2 separate regions of the Homo sapiens genome follow, and region 2 is linked to region 1. The links come from fine-mapping of genetic effects on gene expression. A gene starts in region 1. The other region holds a variant in brackets. All regions are shown on one strand. Distances are between the middles of the regions.

The links. PIP is the estimated chance that this variant, and not a neighbour inherited with it, causes the effect.
Region 2: its variant is fine-mapped to the expression of MGME1 in blood mononuclear cells (TOPMed, PIP 0.94).

The regions. Positions count from the first base shown.
Region 1 is chr20:17,965,028-17,976,975 of GRCh38, forward strand. MGME1 (mitochondrial genome maintenance exonuclease 1) reads left to right here and starts at 3,991. Exons shown (of 5, transcript NM_052865.4): 1 at 3,991-4,114; 2 at 4,774-5,343; 3 at 10,657-10,876. The coding sequence starts at 4,833. It overlaps SNX5 (sorting nexin 5), which reads right to left and starts at 3,767. Exons shown (of 13, transcript NM_014426.4): 1 at 3,348-3,767. The coding sequence starts at 3,398. RefSeq lists enhancers at 1,183-1,262, 2,480-3,234, 3,096-3,145, 3,196-3,365, 3,235-3,989 and 4 more and a silencer at 3,396-3,605.
Region 2 is chr20:17,989,080-18,001,140 of GRCh38, forward strand. MGME1 (mitochondrial genome maintenance exonuclease 1) reads left to right here. Exons shown (of 5, transcript NM_052865.4): 5 at 860-2,043. The coding sequence ends at 1,030. Among named protein-coding and RNA genes, the nearest start is that of MGME1, 26 kb to the left of the region's middle. RefSeq lists enhancers at 7,052-7,121, 10,846-11,347. The variant G/T (reference allele first, on the strand shown) is at 7,462.

The DNA of each region.
Region 1 (11,948 bases):
GCTAATTTTTACATGGCATGTTATTTCCTTAGGCAAGATTAATAGAAAACCTGAAAAATTCGCAACAAGCACACAAAGACTAGCTTCTGTAACACAACCTGACCCCACCCATATCACACCATTTTAGAAGGAAGTCCGTTTAAACCAGTGATTCTCAAACAGGCAATTTTGACTTCTTATCACCATGGGAGGGGAGGAGGCCGCGTCCTAGCAGAGGCCAAAAACAGTTGCTTCACATCCTACAACCCAGAGGGCACTCCTCAACAAAAGTGATCAGGCTAAAATGTCAACAGTGCTCCCCAGGTTGAGAAACTGAATTTTAAACTCAACCTCTAGTTTAGATGACCACTAGGTCTCACCGAATGAGGAGTTTACAGCTCAGAAACAAATCTAGAAAACTTAACAGCCTTGGCCAAGCACAATGGCTCATGCCTGTAATCCCGGCATGTTGAACTGGATGGTGAAACCCCATCTCTACCAAAAAATACAAAAATTAGGTGGGCATGCTGGTGTGTGCCTGTAGCCCCAGCTACTCAGGAGGCTGAGGTGGGGGTGATCACCTGAGCTCCCCAGGTCGAGGCTGCAGTGAGTTGTGATCGTGACACTGCACTCCCGCCTGGGTGACAGAGCCAGACCCTGTCTCAAAAAAAAAAAAAAAAAAGCCTCTTGGCCATTTCTACCTATGGCCAAAATAATGTGAACAGATAATGACCTTTTAGAGTATTCACAAATGGGGATCTTAAGACACCGAGTACAAGTTACTGAACTAGAACTAAGGCGTGGGAAGCTTGATACGTCATACTTCCTCAACTTAGAAAATAGTTGCAAGGGTAGCATAAAGCTTCAGTCCACAAAGTTTGTAAGTTTGGACTTGCTATGGTATTGGTCAAAGTTCAGGATTGTTCCTATACTAACCAACTGCACTCCATTCTAGCTAATGGAGAACAAAAATACCCCTAGAGGCAGCTTCCACACCAGTTAAACACGAAACCAGAGCAGCAGTACTTAGTCTACAAACACTCCTGAGTAGGTAAGAGGACAGATATCATTCACCAAAGTCCCTGTAACCAAGCAGTAAGTTAAGGCCAAGTTGTTACTGTCAAGGAAGGAGAACCCCCTAGTTAAAAATAGCACTAGGCTGCGAAGGTCGAGTTCAAATACCAGCCTGGCCAACATGGTGAAACCCGGTCTCCACAAAAATACAAAAATTAGCCGGGCATGGCGGTGAGCGACTGTAATCCCAGCTACTTGAGAGGCTGAGGCAGGAGAATCGCTTGAACCCAGAAAGCGGAAGTTGCAGTGAGCTGAGATCGAGCCATTGCGCTCCAGCCTGGACGACAGAGCGAGACTCCGTCTCAAAAAAAAAAAAAAAATCAAAAACCAGTAAATAGAGGACCAGTTAGGAACCAAATTAACCATGCATCTCTTCCCCTGAACTATTTTCTGAGGAAGAAGGCAAACCCCAACACCCTCGGCTAAAGAATGTAACAAAATGCCAGTGTCTGGCTACCAGACACGACTGACACAGTATTCCCTTTCAGTTTTGCTGAATTGGCCAAAATGAGTATTGGGCTAGAATTCAAAATCCTGAAGAATCAAGTATGTCCCCCTACCTTAGTGAGTCTTAATTAACTCCATCCTTAGGGAGAATTCCAAACCAAAGTAAATTATCAGGAGGGCATTTAAACAATTTAAGTAACACACATTTCAGGTAACACACAAAACATTTCAGTTGACTACCGAAATTGTATTATGGCAAAAAGTTGCCCAAGACTTAGTTTCCCATTATTTCATACTTGCCCCAAACTCCCTTTCAGTTAACCATAACACCATCTAGGCCAGACCACAGCAGGTTATCAGCATCAGCAGAGATCAGAAAACAAAAATAAAGCCACGCGTCAGGGTAATTATTTATTTTTATTGTCTCTTTATTCCTGTAATGTAAAAAGGAAAACAATGTCATGTAACTCTCTTCGCTACAGATACGGACAGTTTCTGTAGCCTCTAAAACAGGCAGGAAATGGCCTTCATAACCATTCTCCAATTTTGCTGGAGGATCAGGGTGGTGGAAGTCATTTTAAAAACCAGCTGCAATATACTGTACTACCAGAGAGTGGGGTGAAGCAATTGAGTCCTTTTACCTAGCTGACTCCGAATCAAGACAGCTAAAAGAATGTACCAGAAAGAAAGAAAAAATAAAATGCTACCAAAATCCCAATCCATTATCTACCCTTTATGGAGAAAAGTACCTTTATAATGTTTTACAAAGAATCGTGGTCTCAAGTTTCCACTTTGTTTTAGTAATAAAGAACTTTCAAAAAAAAAACCACTCTAAACAACACCCTCCTGTATAGAAAGCTCTATTTTAATAATTAATGCAATGATACCCTTGTTGGAACAATCCAGCCGCTTTGAAACTCTGGTATTTACTTACTAGATGAACAAGTTTCTCTATGGAGGTGCCTTTAACTTCTCAAGAAATGTGTAAGTTAAGACGGCTCCAAATTACATTTTAAGAGAGCCTTGTATTTTTAGAGGTTCTTTTTCATCGGTCAGAAAAACTTACGTTGACGATTCTGCAAGAAAGGTTGCTCGCAAACCATGCATCGCAAAGCTACCGAGGCAAATTTAAAGAACCAATGAAAAAGAGTGGAGGCTCGTCTGAATCTTTAATTGGCTATGGGAATTTCAATTTATTGCATAAATAATCTTTTAGACCTCAAGATACACGTGACCTAGGGACAGTTTACATCAATGGGCAAGACTTAAAAATAGACACCAAGTTCAGCAAGTATTTGAGCACCTACTAAAAATTACACAACTCCCACAACAACGCATTTTGCGTTTCTAAAGTTGTAAGCAGCATGTTCGGACGCTTGATGCAATTTCCCAAGTTGTTTGGGCCCCCCCCCCAAAAAAGTCTTCTCAGTAAAAGGTGGGGGGAAGGAGGGTATTTTGGGGGCAACAAACCAAACTGGTCTGTCGCATGTTAAGTCAATTTCACGTTCACCTACTGGTCACCACGAAGCCGAGGAAAGTTTTAAAAAGAACATTCCGGGGTCTCCAGAGATCATCTCTCCAAGTCCGCTCGGCACCGGCGCCTGAGCTGGGGCTAAGGTCCCGCGTCTCTGGTTCTGTCCTAATAGAATCCGGGACATCCACAGGGATTCCCCGGGGCAGCCTTCAGTGAAGACCAGGGAGAGGGGCCGCCCGGGTCTCACGGGTGCTTCCCGCGCTGGGGATGGCGGCGAGCAGCCACGGCCTATGGACGCGCAAGGGAAAGAATGCAGCGACCCCGGAGCTCGCAGGGCCGCCCGCCCAGGAGTCTGAGGCTGGGAGGACCTCACCTTGCTGCGGTCCTCCTCCTGCTGCTGCAGCAACTCGGGAACCGCGGCCATGGCGACGCGGGACTCGAGCAGGGGCCGCCTGGCTGTGCGAGGAAAGAAGAAGCTGGGCCGCCGCCGCCGCCGCCTGGGCGCCTCTCGGGGGCGGCCACGGCCCCGCCTCCGCCGGCCTCCCTGCCCGACGGCGGCAGGAGGCCTCCGGACTCCGCCACCATCCCAGCTGCCCCGGGAGCAGGCGAGCAGGGCGCCACGTGCTCCCCCAGAGCAGCCTCCCAGTCCCCGCTGCCGTCCATCTTGGAGCCGGGCAAAGACGCCACGTGGGGCCTACCCTTGCTCCGCTCCACGAGGAGGCCGCCAACCGCAGGGCCGCGACACGGACGGGAAGCAACGGACACTCTCCCAGCAAGACGCGTCTAGAGAAAGACCGCGTTTCGGTGCGGGGGGAATTTATTACTCAGCCCGAGTCCAAGATGGCAGCGAGCGCTGACGTCACCAGATCTCGTGAGAGCAGAAGGGCGCGATTTGGAGGCTCCCGCGCTTCGGAGACGCCGGCCCTTCCGCTCGGAGAGGTACTCCCTGCCTCTAACTGGTGGCGCGTTGGCGGAGGCCGACGAAAGCCTCGGGTGGGGCGTGAGCGCCGCGGGGCATTCTGGACCTGCTTTGCCTTAGGCTGTGCCTAATTCGAAACCAAAGCGCGGGACGGATGAAAGTACGGGTCGCGAGAGGTTGTTCGCGCCTTGAGAGTTAAGCGAAGTGTGGTGGCTTCCAAGGTACCGACACTTGCCGTAGGCTGGGCTTTTATTTAAGTCGTCTTTTCTCTAATCCAGACTCCTGCCACAGGGGCCACCGCCGTCCTGGCCCCGCCAGGGGTCCGCACCCACGGCGGAGCGGGAGGCGACTTTTTGCGGTCACAGTAATGGGACCTCAGCGCCGCCACCAGCTCTGACCGGCGAGCGACGGGACCCTCCAACCCGATTTCCACGTCTGTGCAACGGGTTCATTCTAGACCCACGGTAGAGGGTGTGAGGACCAAATGAGAAGTATCCACACAGAATACTTAGCAGAGAGCCTGGTGTCTAGGAATTAGTCGTCGTCTGTCACCTAGGACTGTGTGGCCGCCATGGGACGGGCTCCATCTTTGTGTTTTTCCGTGTCTCGCACACGCCTCCCTTCCTGGGCGTCACATTCCTGCAGATTAGAAACTGGGACGTCTTGCCTCAAGCTGTCTACTAATTCGCATTTAGTATGTGTCGGTCCTTCGGGTATTGAGTCTTGATTTATTTATAAATTTTTTTTGGAGGCAGGGTCTCGCTCTGTCGACTTTCTTAAGAAAGGGCTCTGTCCAAACATGTCGAAAAAGTTCACAATTTTGATGTGCAATATCATTCTGATGCAGCTTTCGCTTTGATGGTTGTTTTCTCTCCAATAGGAATACAAACATAAAGGCCTTCGACCGTTGCAAATAGACTAAAGTGAAAACAAATCTGAATGAAGATGAAGTTATTTCAGACCATTTGCAGGCAGCTCAGGAGTTCAAAGTTTTCTGTGGAATCAGCTGCCCTTGTGGCTTTCTCTACTTCCTCTTACTCATGTGGCCGGAAGAAAAAAGTGAACCCATATGAAGAAGTGGACCAAGAAAAATACTCTAATTTAGTTCAGTCTGTCTTGTCATCCAGAGGCGTCGCCCAGACCCCGGGATCGGTGGAGGAAGATGCTTTGCTCTGTGGACCCGTGAGCAAGCATAAGCTGCCAAACCAAGGTGAGGACAGACGAGTGCCACAAAACTGGTTTCCTATCTTCAATCCAGAGAGAAGTGATAAACCAAATGCAAGTGATCCTTCAGTTCCTTTGAAAATCCCCTTGCAAAGGAATGTGATACCAAGTGTGACCCGAGTCCTTCAGCAGACCATGACAAAACAACAGGTTTTCTTGTTGGAGAGGTGGAAACAGCGGATGATTCTGGAACTGGGAGAAGATGGCTTTAAAGAATACACTTCAAGTAATTATCTCAATTCTGATTCTATATGTTTGCTATGTTTTCTATAATAGAGAGCAACGGTGTCAAAAGAATGAGGTTTGGTTTTGTTTTTTTAACTTACTAGCAAGGAACTCCCTTCAGATAGTAATTAACATTAAATAGCACTTTATGTGTATTAACTCACTTGATCCTCATGGTAGTCCTGTGGAGTATAGATACTGTTATCCACATTTTACAGATGAAACTAAAATAGATCAAATATTTGACTAAATAATACATAAAATTCACTTGTTTTATAAGCTACCAACAATATTAGAATTGCTTGTTTTCCTTGATTATTGAAAAAAGTCACCTGGTAACAGAATTCTAGTTGTTTGCTAGATAATTCTGTTTAGAATCCAGTAAATACCCACTGTCCTACTTATTAGCGTAAACTGACTCGTAAATTTAAAGACCTTGAAGCAGACCAGAACACATGACCTATATTTAGACCTTGGTAAACATAATCAGAGGTTCTTCATAAGGATCTGAGGATAAATACACTTTAACCTTCAACTTCTAATTTACTAACTTGGACAAGTGAGGAGAATAGCTTCCTTAAATTTAATATTCCATTCAAAAACAAAGACCATTGGCACTGGTGAATTAGCTAGTCCCATAAATTATATAGGGGTCTTTTGTTAAAGGAAAGTTTCACATCAATCATTCCTTTACCCAAGCTTCCCAAAGTGCAGTACATGTACTCTTAGTAGTACACAAACTCTTTCATTTTTGTTTTAAGAATAGTGTACTGACCCTTGCCATAGCCTGGGCTTCTATTTAAGTCGTCTTTTCCCTAATCCAGACTCCTAAAACTATGCGTGTAACACATTAAACATGTCACATGTTCTAAAGAAAAATACTAAGTATATATAGGTGGTATTGGATATGTACCAAATGGTCAAGGCCTTTGCTCCTTATAATATTCCTCAGCTGTGTGGGGCAAGGATTATATATGCAAGAGCTAACTGCCTTCCTAAGATAGTTAATTAGTAGCAACCACCAAACTATTGTCTGCTTTCCAAGCAAGCAACATAAAAATCTTCTAATGGCATCTTACAGTTTTGTATTTGTACCACTAAAATTTAGAATTGATAGTTTTCTCATGAGAAGTTATTTTCCTTAAACCAGGAATGTACAGCTGAAATTACTAATAAGAAATGTATTATTAAAAGGCAGAAACCTGCTGGAACACATGGGACCCCAGGGCCTGTAGCTCTTGGCACAAAGTAAGGAAGTGCACCAGAGAGGAATTTCTGTTTGGAATGTGAATGAGCCCCAATAGCCCAGGCAGAGAGAAGACTGGTTGTTTTTTTTTTCATAGAGTCAGCTTTGTTGATCTAGATTAGCACTCAGCTGTGTTTCTCAGTTAACTCAGTAGCAACCTTAAGAAATGAGCAGAATCGCTTACCCCAGCACCCCGCCCAGACTTGACCGCCGGGACCCAAGTGATTCTCCCATCTCAGCCTGCTGAGTAGCTGGGACCACAGGCGTGCACCACCATGCCTGGCTAATTTTTTTATTTTTTGTAGCGACAAGGGTCTCCCTATGTTGCCCAGGCTAGTCTCCAACTCCTGTCTTCAAGTGGTGCTCCCACCTCGGCCTCCCAGAATACTGAGACTACAGGTGTGACCCACTGTGCCCAGGCAGAATCACTCTTTTTAGAAAATAAGTATTAGTAAGCAGTGGGTTCTGAAATAAATAAAGGGACAATTAGTGTCATGGTGAATAAAAGAAAAAGGGCTCACTAAATTGATTAACGGGTCTGGAGGATACTGGATCCCAAACCCAAGAAGGTGGCACCCAAGAAGAATTACATTTTAAAAATTAAGAAGATTTTTTTAATGAAAAATATTGGATCAGTAATTTCTACCCAGTCTTCTCAAAGGTGAGAGCATAGAAATGTGTCTGGCATTCTTCCAAATACTTGAGCAGTTTCCCAAGCATCAGTTCATCTTTTGAAGACTGGTGGGAATGAGAAAGTCTGACTTATTCTGATTTATATTTTGTGTATAAATACACACAAAGGGATGGGGTTTAGGTTTTAATTTTTTTTTTTTTTTTTTTGCTACGCTGATTTAATCCTGAAGTATTAGCCATCCTGCCAGTTCCATCATGAGAATACTGGAGATGCATGAAGGTTTTTTTTAGTGCACTTCATATACGAGGACTTGAAAACATTTCACTTTCATTACTTTGAGTGAATAAGCAGACTTGATGCTACATGCAGTGAATATTCTTGGATCATTTTTTATTTTTATAAATTGAATCATGTTGAATGTTCTGAGCCTTAGTGTCTAAAGGATCCTGTAATCTAGGTTTTCATGTTTGTGATCATGTGTATATGAAGAACCTAGCCAGGGGTAAGTTTGCAGCGAGAAATGTATGGTCTATTGGCATGGCATTTGCTAAGTTTTTTTCTTCCTGTTTTTAACATGTTTGTCTTCTGCTTCATTAACCTAGTGTGTAGATGAATGCTATACACTTCTTTTTCCTAGGCTTTAATTCCATCAGTCATAAATTTCTTGTAGGTCTTTCACGTGTTAATAATTCCAATTGAGTCAAGTAAATTTGGAGTAGAATAACTTAGTTCCTAAGTTGAATTTCATTTAACTCTCCAAATAATTTTTCAGAAGGGATTCCATTTTTTGCTAATGATAGAATTGACATTTCCAGCTGGGCATAGTGGCTCATGCCTGTAATCCTAGCACTTTGGGAGGCCGAAGCAGGCGGATCACTTGAGGTCAGGAGTTCAAAACCAGCCTGGCCAAAATGGCGAAACCCCATCTCTACTAAAAATACAAAAAAATTAGCCGGGCGCAGCGATCACTTGTAATCCCAGCTACTACGGAGGCTGAGGCAGGAGAATCGCTTGAACCTGGGAGGTGGAGATTGCAGTGAGCCGAGATCATACCACTGCACTCCAGCCTGGAAAAAAAAAGAATTGACATTTCCATCTTTGTAAAAAATAGTTGAAGGCCGAGTGCAGTGGCTCATGCCTGTAATCCCAGCACTCTGGGAGACCAAGGTGGGACGATTGCTTGAGGCCAGGTGTTTAAGACCAGCCTAGGCAACGTAGAGAGATTGCATCTCTACAAAAAAAAAATTTTTTTGAATTAGCCAGGCGTGGTGGCACATGCCTGTAGAGGAAGCTGAGACAGGAGGATTGCTTAAGGCCAGGTGTTCAAGGTTACAGTGAGCAATGATCGAGCCAGTACACTCCATCCTGGGTGACAAGTAAGACCCTGTCTCAAAAAAAAAAAAACTTGACAAATGTAAAGTTGTTTTCCGCCTTTTCTGTGGGTCTCTCTGCAAGCATGTTCCAAGCACGTGTATTTCCTGCTCTGTTTCTCTGAGTATCTAATTGGTGATTTCCAAGATTGCTTCCTTTGCTCTACTGTGTGGTAGATTGGAAACAGATTCTGGTGCCAGGCTGCCTGTCCAGCTTTTTGCTTTGGGGCAAATTAACAGCACTGCCTGGTGGGATAGGGCCTCATTCATTAAAATGGGGGTAACTTACAATCCCTATTTTGCTGGGTTGTTGGGTTTGAAAATTAAATAATGTTTTGAAAGCTCCAAGGCCATTGCTTAGCATAACAGTCCCCCCTCTTTCTCTCCTCTTACTAAGAAACAAGTGAATATATTTCTTGTGTTTGTTGAGTCTCTTTGTGTGTTTTTTTTTTTTTTTTTTTTTTTGAGATTGTCTTGCTCTGTCACCCAGGCTGGAGTGCAGTGGCATGATCTTGGCTCACTGCAACCTCTGCCTCCTGGGTTCAAGCAATTCTCCTGCCTCAGCCTCCAGAGTAGCTGGAATTACAGGCATGCGCCACCACACCTGGCTAATTTTTGTATTTTGAGTAGAGACTGGGTTTTACCATGTTGGCCAGGCTGGTCTTGAACTCCTGACCTCAGGTAATCCGCCTGCCTTGGCTGCCCAAAGTGCTGGGATTATAGGCATAAGCCACCATGCCCGGCCATGTTCCCTTTTTTAAAATGTGTATGAGGAGGGGGCTTACTATGCAAGCGCTTGGAGGCCAACGAGCACTGAAAATGAGGAGAGAGTTCAAAAATCAAGTTAGATCCTGGGATACGCCAACAAATCCAGACACTACAGTTCTTTCGGAGAAACCTGGGGACGAAAAGTAAGGCTTTGACCTCAGAAAATGAACATACAGGAAAAATAATGTGTCCTAATGTGTCCTAATGAAATTTCTCTAGTATTCACATGTTATAAAATGTTAGGAAGAAAGAAGATGTGTCCTCCTACAAGCCATAAATCAGAATTCTAATAATCTAAAGCTAATTAGAAAAATATTACATGTTAAATATTAAATATTAGAATAGAAAAATGTATGAGGGAAAAAAATTGAGACACAGCTGAATTTTTCAGGCTGTTCCAGCACTAAAAAAAAAATACAGGAGAAGAATGTCACATATTTTCCTCTTCCTCCCCCTCCAGATTCCATAATATCAAATTCATAACTTTTCATTTGCGCATGCCTTATTTTCCATTCCTTGTTTGTCACTAATCCTGTTAGTAAAAGGATTCCCCCACCTATGTTCATAATTAAGTTTTGGTCTAAAAAGAACTACAAACAGAAGCACAGTTCCCTAGATTTCTAATTTTTTTTTATTTTATCACAGCCAGTTAACTTATTACATTGGATACTTAAACACATAGTACCATAAACTGGATGTGGTCTTGTAGCCGCCAGATCTTCAGTTTTGACTTTGGCCCAATTCTCCTAGAAGTACTTAATTTTAATTCATTTTATTACCTAACGTCCTATTAATAATCCCGTTGGTTTCAAAGTATATTCTTAGGTTTCACAAGAGGCTGAAATTTGGTCTTAGGGGTTGTCACTTAAAAATAACTAATGTAATTTTTGGCCGGGCACGGTGGCTCATGCCTGTAGTCTCAGCACTTTGGGAGGCCAAGGCTGGCAGATCACGAGGTCAGGAGTTCGAGACCAGCCTCACCAATATGGTGAAACCCCATCTCTACTAAAAGTAGAAAAATTAGCCAGGCACGGTGGCGGGCGCCTGTAATCCCAGCTACTCAGGAGGCTGAGGCAGGAGAATCACTTGACCCCAGGAGGCAGAGGTTGCAGTGAGCCAATATCGCCCACTACACTCCAGCCTGGGCGACAGAGGGAGACTCCATCCAAAAAAAAAAAAAAGAAAAAAAAATGTCATTTTTAATTGTATTGTTTCAGGGCGTTTTAGAGTATTTGTTTTTCAGTGTTAGCTTTGTTTGTGTTTCCCCCCTCCCCTTTTCCCTGATTTTCTTTTCAGACGTCTTTTTACAAGGGAAACGGTTCCACGAAGCCTTGGAAAGCATACTTTCACCCCAGGAAACCTTAAAAGAGAGAGATGAAAATCTCCTCAAGTCTGGTTACATTGAAAGTGTCCAGCATATTCTGAAAGATGTCAGTGGAGTGCGAGCTCTTGAAAGTGCTGTTCAACATGAAACCTTAAACTATATAGGTCTGCTGGACTGTGTGGCTGAGTATCAGTAAGTATGAGATTGGAGGTGAATTAATACAGCGTAGGACAGATGGTGCCTGTCAAAGGTGTGCCTGTAGGTACTGTAGCCTCTGTCTGTTTAATGTCCAGACCTTTGTGCTAGGTAAAAGAATTGGGTGGGGCGGGGTTGAGAACAGGTACAAGGAGAAGAGCCACGTAACCTTTGTCATCCAGTACTCCAAAATCAAATTGTTTGCTGGAGAAAGGTATATTCTTTGTTTGTTTGTTTTGTTTTGAGACGGAGTGTCACCCAAGCTGGAGTGCAGTGGTGCAATCTTGGCTCACTGCAACCTCCGTCTCCCAGGTTCAAGCGGTTCTCCTGCCTCAGCCTCCTGAGTAGCTGGGACTACAGGCATGCACCACCGCACCTGGCTAATTTTTGTATTTTTAGTAGAGACAGGGTTTCACCATGTTGGCCAGGCTGGTCTCAAACTCCCGACCTCAAGTGATCCATCCACCTTGGTTTCCCAAAGTGCTGGGATTACAGGCGTGAGCCACTGCACCTGGCCGAGATTTTTCAATCTCCCTAACATGGCCTGTTTGCCAGCCTGTCCTTCCCCTCCCCCAAAGCAAGGTACCTGCCATAAGATCCAATTTCATTCCTGCGTTTTCTTTCCTGTTTTTCTAAAGATAGCACCATGATCTGTTGGTTCTGAAAATCAACTCTTCCTGGCTTCCAGGCAGTGCTTGACATGGATCAGAGATCTGAACTTACTAAAGCTTCCCATGGTTGTTTTGTTTTGTTTTGTTTCGTTTTGTTTTTTGAGACGGAGTTTTGCTCTTGTTGCCCAGGCTGGAGTGCAGTGGTGCGATTTCAGCTCACTGCAACCTCCATCTCCTAGGTTCAAGCTATTATCTTGCCTCAGCCTCCCAAGTAGCTGGGATTACAGGCATGCGCCACCATGTGTGGCTGATTTTGTATTTTTAGTAGAGATGGGGTTTCTCCATGTTGGTCAGGCTGGTCTCGAACTTCGGACCTCAGGTGATCCGCCTGCCTCAGCCTCCCAAAGTGCTAGGATTGTAGGCATGAGCCACCACGCCCGGTCCCCATGGTTTTTATA
Region 2 (12,061 bases), 24 kb after region 1:
CCCTGTCTCAAAAATAAATAAATAGGCCAGGTGTGGTGGCCCAAGCCTATAATTCCAGCACTTTGGGAGGCCGAGTTGGGCAGATCACCTGATGTCAGGAGTTCAAGACCAGCTTGGCTGACATGGCGAAACCCTGTCTCTACTAAAAATACAAAAATTAGCTGGGCGTGGTGGTGTGTGCCTCTAGTCCCACCTACTTGGGAGGCTGAGGCAGGAGAATCGCTTGAACCCAGGAGGCGGAGGTTGCGGTGAGCCAAGGTTGTTCCACTGCACTCCAGCCTGGGCAACAGAGCAAGACTGTCTCTCTCCAAATAAATAAATAAATAAATAAATAAATAAATAGCACTTTTTGGCCAGGGGTGGTGGCTCATGCCTGTAATCCCAGCACTTTGAAGGAGGCCGAGGTGGGCAGATTGCTTGAGCCCAGGAGTTCAAGACCAGCCTGGGCAACGTGACAAAACTCCATCATTACTAAAAATAGAAAAATCAGCCGGAAGTGGTGCCCGCCTCAGCTTCGAGGGTGCAACGAGCCGAGATTGTGCCACTGCACTCCAGCCTGGACGATGGGAGTGGGATCCTGTCTCAAAAAAGAAAAAAAAAGCACTTTTCCACCCTCTTCTTGGGCCTTTTTTTTTTTTCAATGGCTCTGTAAGGATCACAGCCCAGTCTTCAATGTTTTATCTGTCATCTTTGTGTTCTTGTGTCCTGGTGCAGTCTTTGATCAACCTACCTTAGAAACTGAGTTAGGAGATATCCTGTAGATTATTTTATACTGAGTTTGCCCTGGAGTAAGAAGGAAACGAACCTAAACTCTGGACCTACTGTAGTGAAACGAGAATTGCCCTGTGTTTCTTCCTAGGTTCAATGTGGCTTAATTGTGGTGGCCTACAAAGATGGATCACCTGCCCACCCACATTTCATGGATGCAGAGCTCTGTTCCCAGTACTGGACCAAGTGGCTTCTTCGACTAGAAGAATATACGGAAAAGAAAAAGAACCAGAATATTCAGAAACCAGAATATTCAGAATAGGGAGCAAGTTGCTATTTGGGAACATTCAGCACCTTCTCACAGTTTGGGAACATATATTGCTGTTTACTCCAGTGTAAAAATGAGGTGCCACTGGATCTGAGTGCTACACGAACACAAGTAGAAGTATTAATTTGTTGAAATGTGTTGTTACCAAAAAGACTGAAAAGCCCCAAAGTCTAGATATAAAGACCTAGACTTCGGCACGCGAAATCCCAGCTATGCTACCTCTTATTTACCTGAAAGGAGGACACGCAGGATGGGCAGTCATGCTGGTGACTCTTGTACTCCCTTGAGGGACATTGGGGGGGGGGGGGCGTGGTCCCAGGCAGGATGCCCAGTCTTTGAGCTGAGATTGGAAGGCAGTGAGGCTGAGGGTGCCAAGATTTCCCCAGGGTTCACCCAGAGGGGAAGGGGCTACATGCCCCCAGCTGTGTGCAGGGAGGACACATCAGCCCACTACCGCTGCCAACACCAATGCCTAAAACTTGTTTCATACATTGGGGTTTTCTATATATTTCAGCTGGGAAAAGCTTACATTTAACCTTTTGAAAAAATAAATACGTGATTAGCCTCAACTAAACATTGCTGACTATAAAGACAGTATATTCACCATGTCGCTGGCAATATGTCATTGCGTAACACCAAATAACCCCCCAGAAGTAGCCAGAGGCCAGTTTGAACATCACAATTCTAAGTGTTTTAGTAACTATTTCTGGCGTGAGTCAACAGATCATGTAGATAGAGTCAATTATTGTTTGTGGAGTTTTTCAGCTATAGGGGAGGGGAACTATTAAAATCCATTTGTTTCTATTCAATAGGTAATAAAAATTAGTTGTCCCTGGGTTTGGGAAACTTAAATGCCCATTACAGCCCTGGGGAAGGGTTTTCTGTCTTATGGAGTGAGTCTTAGCATTTAAGTTATACAGTTGCTGCCTTAAAATAGTAGCCTGCTACAATGACTTCTTTGGGTAGCCATTTTCATAAGAAATAAAATACAAGATATGAGTAATGAAGCTTTGGTTTTGTTTACTTTGTGTGTTTATAGGATAATTTTATAAACCTGGAAATTGTTTGCACTTTTTTTATAATTCAGAATTTTACAAGCCCAATAGCTTTGGTGAGAGTTCTGTGTAAGTGCATAAAAGAAAGCGTCCTCGGCTGGGCGCAGTGGCTCACGCCTGAAATCCCAGCACTTTGGGAGGCCGAGGCGGGCGGATCACAAGGTCAGGAGATCGAGACCATCCTGGGTAACACGGTGAAACCCCGTCTCTACTAAAAATACAAAAAATTAGCTGGGCGTCGTGGCGGGCGCCTGTAGTCCCAGGTGCTCCGGAGGCTGAGGCAGGAGAATGGCGTATACCCGGAAGGCGGAGCTTGCAGTGAGCCGAGATCACGCCACTGCACTCCAGCCTGGGCGACAGAGCGAGACTCCGTTTAAAAAAAAAAAAAAAAAAAAGCCTCCTCACTAAGCCCTCAGCCACGGTCACCTAGCAAGGAAAGCAATATTCAGGTAGGAGATGGGAGGATCAAGGGGGACCTTTGTATTATCTCTATACACTTCTGCATTCATGTGGGTTTTTCTCAAGCTGCAGATACATATTTCTGTAGCCTGTAAATTCCAGTCAAAAATGAAGTGAGGCAATTAAAAGTTGTGCTAGCAGAGTTTGCCACTCTGCTCTAATAAGCCTCAACCTAGAATTTAGGAGGCTAGACCTAACAAAATTTCTTTTTATTTTTCTTTTTTTTTTTTTTTGAGACCATCTGGCTCTGTCAGCCAGGCTGGAGTGCGGTGGGCTCACTGCAGCCTCCGCCTTCCGGGCTCAAGCAATTCTCCTGCCTCAGCTTCCCAAGTAGCTGGGATTACAGGCGTGCACCACCATGCCCTGCTAATTTTTGTATTTTTAGTAGAGACAGGGCTTCGTCATGTTGACCAGGGTAGTCTCAAACTCCTGACCTCAGGTGATCCGCCTGCCTCAGCCTCCCGAAGTGCTGGGATTACAGGCGTGAGTCACTATGTCCAGCTGCAAAATTTCATTTTAATACAGGTGTTCTGTTATGTAAATAGAAATTTGTCTCAGACCTGTGACTTTGTACTAGGAGTCTCCCAAGATAATGGTGGCCTGAAAAGTTCTATGAGGGAGCCCCTCAGGAGAGTGTGACCAGGAGGATGTGGTTGGTATAAGAACAGAGAAGGTAAATCCCTGGGCAGGTTTTCTTGACCTCAAGGGCTCACCAGTTTCTCCTGATAATCATGATACTCCTCGGGGGTCACATCTCCTGAGATGTTAATGTCAACGGAAAAAGTTATTGTTACTACGAAAGCATAGGAGGAGAAAGTCAAATTTGAGTTTCTAAATGAGTTGCAGTTTTTCAAGAATTAACATGTATGAGGCAGTGGCTTACGCCTGTAATCTCAGCACTTTGGGAGGCCGAGGCGGGTGAATCACTTGAGGTCAGGAGTTCAGGACCAGCCTGGCCAACATGGTGAAACCCTGCTTCTCTACTAAAAATTAAACTAGCTGGGCCTGGTGGTGCACACCTGTAGTCCCATCTGCTTGGGGAACTAAGACGGGAGAATTGTTTGAACCCAGGAGGCAGAGGTCGCAGTGAGCTAAGGCCACGCCACTGCACTCCAGCCTGGGCAGCAGAGCGAGTCTCCGTCTCAAAAAAAAAAAAAAAAAAAAAGGAATTAACACGTATGTTAGGAATTGTTGGTTGCCATCTCTTTGCCGAAGTGAAATACTGCATATGAAACTCCAGTGAAATGAAACAGCATTCAAAATAAGGAGAGACGCTCAAGGATAATTTACATTTTTTTAAAGGAGGTGTGTGTATATTGCTTTTCTGAGGAGGCTTTCTCAGAAGTACAGAATGTTGCCTTCCAGTGTTTAGTTTTGAGAAAATCCGTTGGCTTCAAAGCTAACTGCATTTCCTTTTCCTCCACAGTTCTACCCATTCTTACCAATGCAGTCAGCAACTGACAGAAGTTCCATGCTGACACAAAAGCCAATTTTGTTTTTTCCAAAAAAAAAAAAAAAAAAGTATAAATATATACACATACATGTATGGCCTTTTTCCTCCTTACACCTGGCCTCTTCCTCAGAGCCTGATAATCTGAGAACATTAGCCTCTATAACCCTATTATAATTCTAGGAAAACTCGTCAGTGTATGACCTACGGTTTCATATGTGTTGACCTTGGTAAATACAGGAAGGGGGTTAGTCATAAGTCAGTGTGTTCCTAGGTAACCAATTTGGCTACTGGCTTTAAAAGGAATTGGAGAAGGGTACTTTGTTTTAATCACTGAGGCTTTCCACCCGAGCAATTAAATATTTGATTATAACCTACCCTGTGTTCCTGCCCACCCCTCAACAAAAGAGTGAAGGAAGGGAATCATTGGAGTAAAAAACATTAAGAAACAAAATAGAGAATAGTTGAAACTTCCATGTTTAAAGAAACAATAAGTTGTTTGGAGCTATGTGTTAAATCACTCAATGCTAAGTAAAAAGTAGAACTGACTTTTCCTTCCTGCCTCCCTTCCCGCCAGCAGAGGCCTAAAAGTTAAGCAGATATGTGCTTCTGCTGGAAGTCTAACCTACTGATCCACTTCAGTTATTTATACTATTGAAGGGAACTAGAGAGAATCTCTGGGGAGAGACCCCAGAATGAGCAAAAGGCTTGTATGTTGCCATGACAATAACAATTGTCAGGTTGAGTAATGCATTTGTGAAGATCCAATCATAAAAAGATGGCCAGGCACAGTGGCTCATGACTGTAATCTCAGCACTTTGGGACGCTGAGGCAGGCGGATCATTTGAGCTCAGGAGTTTGAGACCAGCCTGGGCAACATGGCAAAACCCCATCTCTACCAAAAATACAAAAAAGTAGCCAGGTGTGGTGGCATGCACCTGTGGTCCTAGCTACTTGGGAGGCTGAGGGAGGATCGCTTGAGCCTGGGAGGTGGTGGTTGTAGTGAGCCAAGATTGCACCACTGCACTCCAGCCTCAGCAACAGAATGAGACCCTGTCTCAAATAAATAAATAAATAATGTTTTGGGTTCAGATTTGAGGGTTTTTTCCCATTTTACTTAAGAAATAGATATAAAATATGTAGATTGTTACAGGCCAGGTGCAGGGGTTCACACCTTGAACCCAATGCTTTGGGAGGCCAAGGCTAGAAGATCGCTTGAGGCCAGGAGCTGGAGACCAGCTTAGGCAACATAGAAAGACTCCCATCTCTAAAAAGTAAAAAGTCGTGTAATCCCAGCACTTTGGGAGGTCGAGGCAGGCGGATCACGAGGTCAGGAGATCGAGACCTTCCTGGCTAGCACAGTGAAACCCTGTCTCTACTAAAAATACAAAAAATTAGCCAGGCGTGGTGGTGGGTGCCTATAGTCCCAGCTACTCGGGAGGCTGAGGCAGGAGAATGGCATGAACCCGGGAGGCGGAGCTTGCAGTGAGCCAAGATCACGCCACTGCACTCCAGTCTGGGCGACAGAGCGAGACTTTGTCTTGGGAAAAAAAAAAAAAAGTCGTTGGGCATGGGGGTCATGCTGATAGTCCTAGCTACTTGGGAGGCTGAGACAAGAGGATCACTTGAGTCCAGGTGTCCAAGGCTGCAGAGAGCTATGATCACACCACTACACTCCAGCCTGGGTGAGACCTTGTCTCTAAAACAAACAACAACAACAACAAAAAATAGACCAGGCCAGCGCGGTGTCTCATGCCTGTAATCCCAGCACTTTGGGAGACTGAGACGGGTGGATCTTCTGAGGTCAGGAGATCGAGACCAGCCTGGCCAACATGGTGAAACCCCGTCTCTACTAAAAATATAAAAATTAGTCGGGCGTGGTGGTGGGCACCTGTAATTCCAGCCATTTGGGAGGCTGAGGCACGAGAATTGCTTGAACCCAGGAGACAGAGGTTGCAGTGAGCCAAGACCATGCCACTCCACTCCAGCCTGGGCAACAGAGCGAGCAAGACTCAGTCTTCTAAAAAAAAAAAAAAAAAAAAAAGCATTACAGATAAAAGCTGTTGCCTTGTTTTCTTAATCCCATTTCCCTCTCCCCTGAGACAAATGCCGTCATAAATTTGATGTGGGTTTTTTTGTATAGTTTTACTGTGTGTACTGGTTTCCATGTATAATATAGTTTTGCTTTCTGTGTTTTTAGATTTACTTGCTTTATCTCAACTTTGTTTTTGAGATGTCTCCAGGTTCACCAATTCTAGATCTTTCATAACTGCTTTTAACTCCTCTGCAGTTCTCCCTCCTGTTTTATTGTCATGCTAATGGACTGTTCGGTTAACAGTGTTTTGCTACTCCAGACGATGCAGCAGTGAACACCTTTGCACGTGTTTTCTGGTACACACAATACACATGCAATATAGTGGAAAGTGCAGTATGGATTGTGACTCTGCCACTTACTAGCTCTGTGACCTTGGACTAGTTACTTGACCTTTTTTTTTTTTTTTTTTTGAGAGGGAGTCTCACTCTGTCGCCCAGGCTGGAGTGCAGTGGCACGATCTCGGCTCACTGCAAGCTCGGCCTCCAGCGTTCACGCCATTCTCGTGCCTCAGCCTCCTGAGTAGCTGGGACTATAGGCACCCGCCACCACGCCCGGCTAATTTTTTTTGTATTTTTAGTAGAGACGGGGTTTCACCTTGTTAGCCAGGATGGTCTCGATCTCCTGACCTCGTGATCCACCCACCTCGGCCTCCCAAAGTGCTGGGATTACAGGCGTGGGCCACCGCACCCGGCCTGTTACTTGACCTTTTTGTGCTTGATTTCCTCATCTGTAATTTGGGGGAAAATAATAGTATCTGCTTCTTGAAATTGTGAGGATTGAATGAGCGAAGCATTCAGAAAAGTGCCTGACACATGGTGGGAACAAAATGTTAGCCATCCTCCTATCAAATGATCAGACCTGGATGTGTCTCTGCTGGGTCAAAGCTTGAACATTACCACCAAATTCCTCTCCAAAACAGTGACATCGACTTAATGTCCCACCAGTGGTGTCTGAAATTTCCTGATTTCTCGCATATTCTCTAACACAAGAGTTGTGAGCCCCTCTTCTGACGGTATGAAAACCATTTTTTTTTTGGAACAGCATTAACGCGTGAATAAAATCTGCTTTAAAACGCGACTGTCATCTAGTGGTGAGAGAAGTACACTGCAATTATGGGGCAGAAGCCAAAAATGGGCGGACCTACATCTATCTCCGGGTAATTTGGGCATTTTAGTCACCAACACAGGTCTGTTTTGAATAAAATCAACTACATGAGTGTTCTTCCTTTACCTCTGTATTTTCAGGCAGCTTGTACTTCTCACTTTTTCTACTACAATAATATAGAAGCCTGGCTACACAGCCCAGTGAGGCCCCTTGCTACCAAATGCATCTGGGTCACCGGTTCGGAAAAGTGGAGTGAGATAAA[G/T]TAGAAATGAGGCTATTTACCAAACTGGTAGGAAACTGCAGCTCCAACCAGGGCGGGCTTCCCACAGGCAGCACTGATTTTCCAGCAGGAGAGATGGCAATTCCCACGTTGGTGCAGGTCATACAGGCACTGCAGGGGACTCAGCTCAGTCGGCTCACCAGAGCCCCAGTTAATGCGTCCCAATCAGCCTCAGCCATTCTCTGCGAGGACTTCTAAAAGGATTGAAAAGTGTATGAAAGTGTTAGATATTAATCATCAGAGACATAGATATAGTTTTAAAGATCTGTTAGATAACAAATATTATCTAACAGGTTAGGTAACATGCTACAATTTTGTGATGAACAAAAATGTTCATTAAAGGTAATAGTGTAAAAAAGCAATGTTGCTGAAATGTAACCTAATGTGTCTTTAAGTAATAGTATCACTAAACTAATGGCATATTAAAAGTTTTTTAAAAAAAGAAGCCGTGTGCGGTGGCTTGTGCATGTAATCCCGACATTTTCGGAGGCTGAGGCTGGCAGATTGCTTGAGCCCAGGAGTTCAAGACCAGCTTGGGCAACATGGCAAAATCCTGTCTCTACAAAAAATACAAAAATTAGCCAGGCATGGTGGTGCACACCTGTAGTCAGGCCCAGCTACTCAGGAGGCTGAGGTGGGAAGACCACTTGTGCCTGGGAGGCAGAGGCTACAGTGAGCCAAGATCACACCACTTCACTCCAGCCTGGGGGACAGAGGGAGACCCTGTCTCAAAAAAAAAAAAAAGTTAAAAAAGAAAACAAATTCTAAAGAACAGCAAGCTAAGGTCAACTGTGATTAGAAGCATTCATTTAGGCAAGTCTAGACTGTCCTACTGCACCAGTCTCACTCATTTCTAAGCTGTTGTTTGTGCTGACACCTTTGCATAAAATAACTTCCCTTCCTCCCTTTGTTCAGCCATATCTTGCCTGAGAGCTTGGGCCTGAACCGCAATCCCACTGATGATCTGCTCAAGTCTTACCTGCTCCACAGGAAACAAAATGGTATAGGGCAGGAAGCAGGAGCCTCAGAATTGGGCAGAGGTGGGTTCAAATCCTGCTGTGCAATGCTAAGTCACTTCAGCTCTCCATGCCTTTTTCCTCACTAGTAATTTGGGGAAGAGTATTAACCTCAGTGTTCCTGGAAAGATTAACATAGGAAATGTGTGACAAATGCTGAACGTGGAATAGGCACTGGGCAAAGATCAACTACTTCCTCCGTGGAACCGACTCTACCCTTCACTGAACTCTTGTGGTGCCTTTGTTTTTACCACCCACTTTGATTCTTGTTCATATTCTACCTTTTTCTGTTACTTCACTATTTCAGATGTACATGTAACAAACACAGTGAAACCCCGTCTCTACTAAAAATACAAAAAATTAGCCGGGAGTGGTGGCACATCCTGTAGTCCCAGCTACTCAGGAGGCTGAGGCAGGAGAATCGCTTGAACCCTGGAGGGGGAGGTTGCAGGGAGCAGAGATTGCACCACTGCATTCCAGCCAGGGCGGCAGAACGAGACTCCGTCTCAAAACAAAAACAAACAAACAAACAAAAAGACAAAAAAAACTACTTATTTTATATCTATTTCTTAAGTAAAATGAAAAACAAAAAGAAAAAAACTCTCAAATCTGAACCCAAAACATCTTTTTATTTATTTATTTTTTTGAGACAGGGTCTCATTCTGTCGCCAAGGCTGGAGTGCAGTGGCACAATCTTGGCTCACTACAACCTCTGCCTCCTGGATTCAAGCGATTCTCTTGCCTCAGCCTCCCGAGTAGCTGGGATTACAGGTCATTACCACCGCACCTGGCTAATTTTTTGTATTTTTAGTAGAGACGGGGTTTTTTCATGTTGGCTGGCTGGTCTCGAACTCCTGACCTCAGGTGATCCATCCACCTTGGCCTCCCAAAGTGCTGCGATTATAGGCGTGAGCCACCATGTCTGGCCCAGAATAGTGTTTTAAGAGAGAGATGAGTAAAGAGACAAACAACAGAGGAAACTGCCATTTCCTAGAGCAGCAGAAAAAGAGCTGGGTATCAGAATGGCTCACCAGAGAAATTTGGTTAGTGCTGGTCACCCCTTTGATAAGAGGCTGTGGGTTGACTTGTGAGCTCAGTGATTTGAAAGTTTTGAGTATATGAAGAAAAAAAAAAGAAATGAAAGCTTTGTGTAGAACTAGGGGAGTCTCGCAGTGAAACAAGACTTGCAAAATAGGATTAATGAGGCAGTACAGATAAGGATGCGATGCTGAAGAAAGTCATGGGATTGTAGTTAGACGGTGTATAAATCAGAGAGCTAAAACCAATAGGGCTTGTAGATATAGGTATATGACAGGGGATTTATTAGGGGAATGGGCTCACACAATTATGGGGGCTGAGAAGTCCTACGGTCTGCTGTCTGCAGGCTGGAAAACCAGGGAAGCTGGTAGCATGGCTCCGTCCAAGTTCAAAAGCCTCAGAACCAGAGAACCTGATAGCACTCAGTCTCAGGCCGAAAGCCTGAGAATCCAGGAGGCCACTGGTGTCCCAGAGTCCAAAAGCTGGAGAAGCTGGAGTTCTGATGTCCAAGGGCAGGAGAAGAAGGGTGTTCCAGCTCCAGAAAACAGAGCAAATCCTCCTTTCCTTTGCCTTTTTGTTATCCTGGCCCTCAGCTGATGGACGGTGCCCCCTGACATTGAGTGAGGATGGATCTTCCTTACTCAGTCCACTGATTCAAATGCCAGTTTCTTCCAGAAACACCTCACAGACACCTCAAAATAATGCTTCGCCAGCTGTCTGGGTGTCATTAATCCAGTTACGCTGACACCTAAGATTGACCATCATAGGTGGTAATTCATTCCTTTACCCGACAAATGTCTTATTGAATATTCATGTCTGCCTTGTGCTAGTTTTTTGCAAAATGCATGGAGCTGACAGTCTAGAGAAAGGGCAAACAATTAATAAGTGAGAAAGTTAGTATGAAAATTACAGATTGACAGTGCCATGAAGAAACAGAGGATCACTGAGCCAGGAGGAGAATTGCAACTTTGGATTGTGTGGTCAGAGAGGGCTCCTCTGAGGGGCGACACATAACATGATACTTGAAGGAGGAAAGGAGGAAACGTGGCCAGCACTGCAGAGAGCCACAGGAAGAATATTCCAGCAGAAGGATCAGCATGTTCAAAGGCCCCAGGGTAGGAAAGAACAGCATGTTACAGGAGCTATAAGAACACAGGGGTGGCCAGAAGGCAGTGGGGAAAGGAAAGGAATTGCAGGCTGCAGAAGTGGGCGGGGGAGCCAGATGATGTCAAACTCAATATGCCATGGTAAGGAGTTTAGATTTTACTCTAAGATGGAAAGACAGGGATAAGCAGGGGAATAAAGCCATTCCATTGCCTTTTAAGAAGAGCGGGGCCAAGTGCAGTGGCTCTCACCGGTAATCCCAGCACTTTGGGAGGCCAAGGCAGGAGATCACTTGAGCCCAGGAGTTCGAAACCAGCCTGGGCAACATAGTGAGACCTCCACCTCTATTTTTTTTTATTTTATCTTATCTATTTTATTTTATTTATTTTGAGATGGAGTTTTGCTCTTGTCGCCTAGGCTGGAATGCAATGGCGCCACTTCGACTCACCGCAACATCTGCCTCCCAGGTTCGAGTGATTCTCCTGCCTCAGCCTCCCGAGTAGCTGGGATTACAGGTGCATGCCAACGCCACCATGCCTGGCTAATTTTTGTATTTTTAGTAGAGATGGGGTTTCACCAGGCTGGTCTCGAACTCCTGACCTCAAACGATCCACCTGCCTCGGCCTCCCAAAGTGCTGGGATTACAGGCATGAGCCACCGTACCTGGCCTAATTTAATTAAAATTATTTAAAAGACGAAGAAGAAGAAAAAGAAGAAGAAGAGGAGGAGGAGGAGGCGGCGGCGGCAGCAGCAGCAGCAGAAGCAGATCAGCATTGTTTGGAGAGCAGAATGCAGGAGGCAAGTGCTGAAGCACAGCCTGGCTGGACTATTATAGACAGAGCTATTATAATAGGAGTCAGCACACTGGCTCATCCACCAAATCCGGCTTGCTGCCTGATACAGTCTTTATACGGTCTGTGAGCATAGAGTTGTTTTTACATTTTTAAATGTTTGGAAAAAAAATCAAAAGTAGAGTCTTTTTATGGCATATATAATTTTTATAAAATTGTAAAGATTCGAATTCCAGTGTCTGTAAGTCAAGGTTTCCTGGAACACAGCATCACCCATTTGCTTTTGACTCTGGCTGCTTTCCTTCTGTAGCTGCAGGTTAAGTCGGTAACAGAGGCTGTATGGCCTGCAAAGCCTCAAGTATTTACTATCTGGACTTCTATAGAGTAAGTCTGCCGACTCTCAGTCTAGATGATAGAAGAGGTAGGCTGGCCTAGAGAAATGGCAGAGGAGGTGCTGGGAAGGAAGATTCGAGATGTATTTTGGGAGCCTTGCCTGAGGGTTTGAATGAGATGAGTGATGAAGAAGTATAAATGGAAGGTAAGTTGTAGGTTTAGGGCATGTGTGTTATTTGCTGACATGGGAAAGGCTGGAGGGAGAAAATCCAGGTCCAGCCCCATCTTTTCTCCTCACTA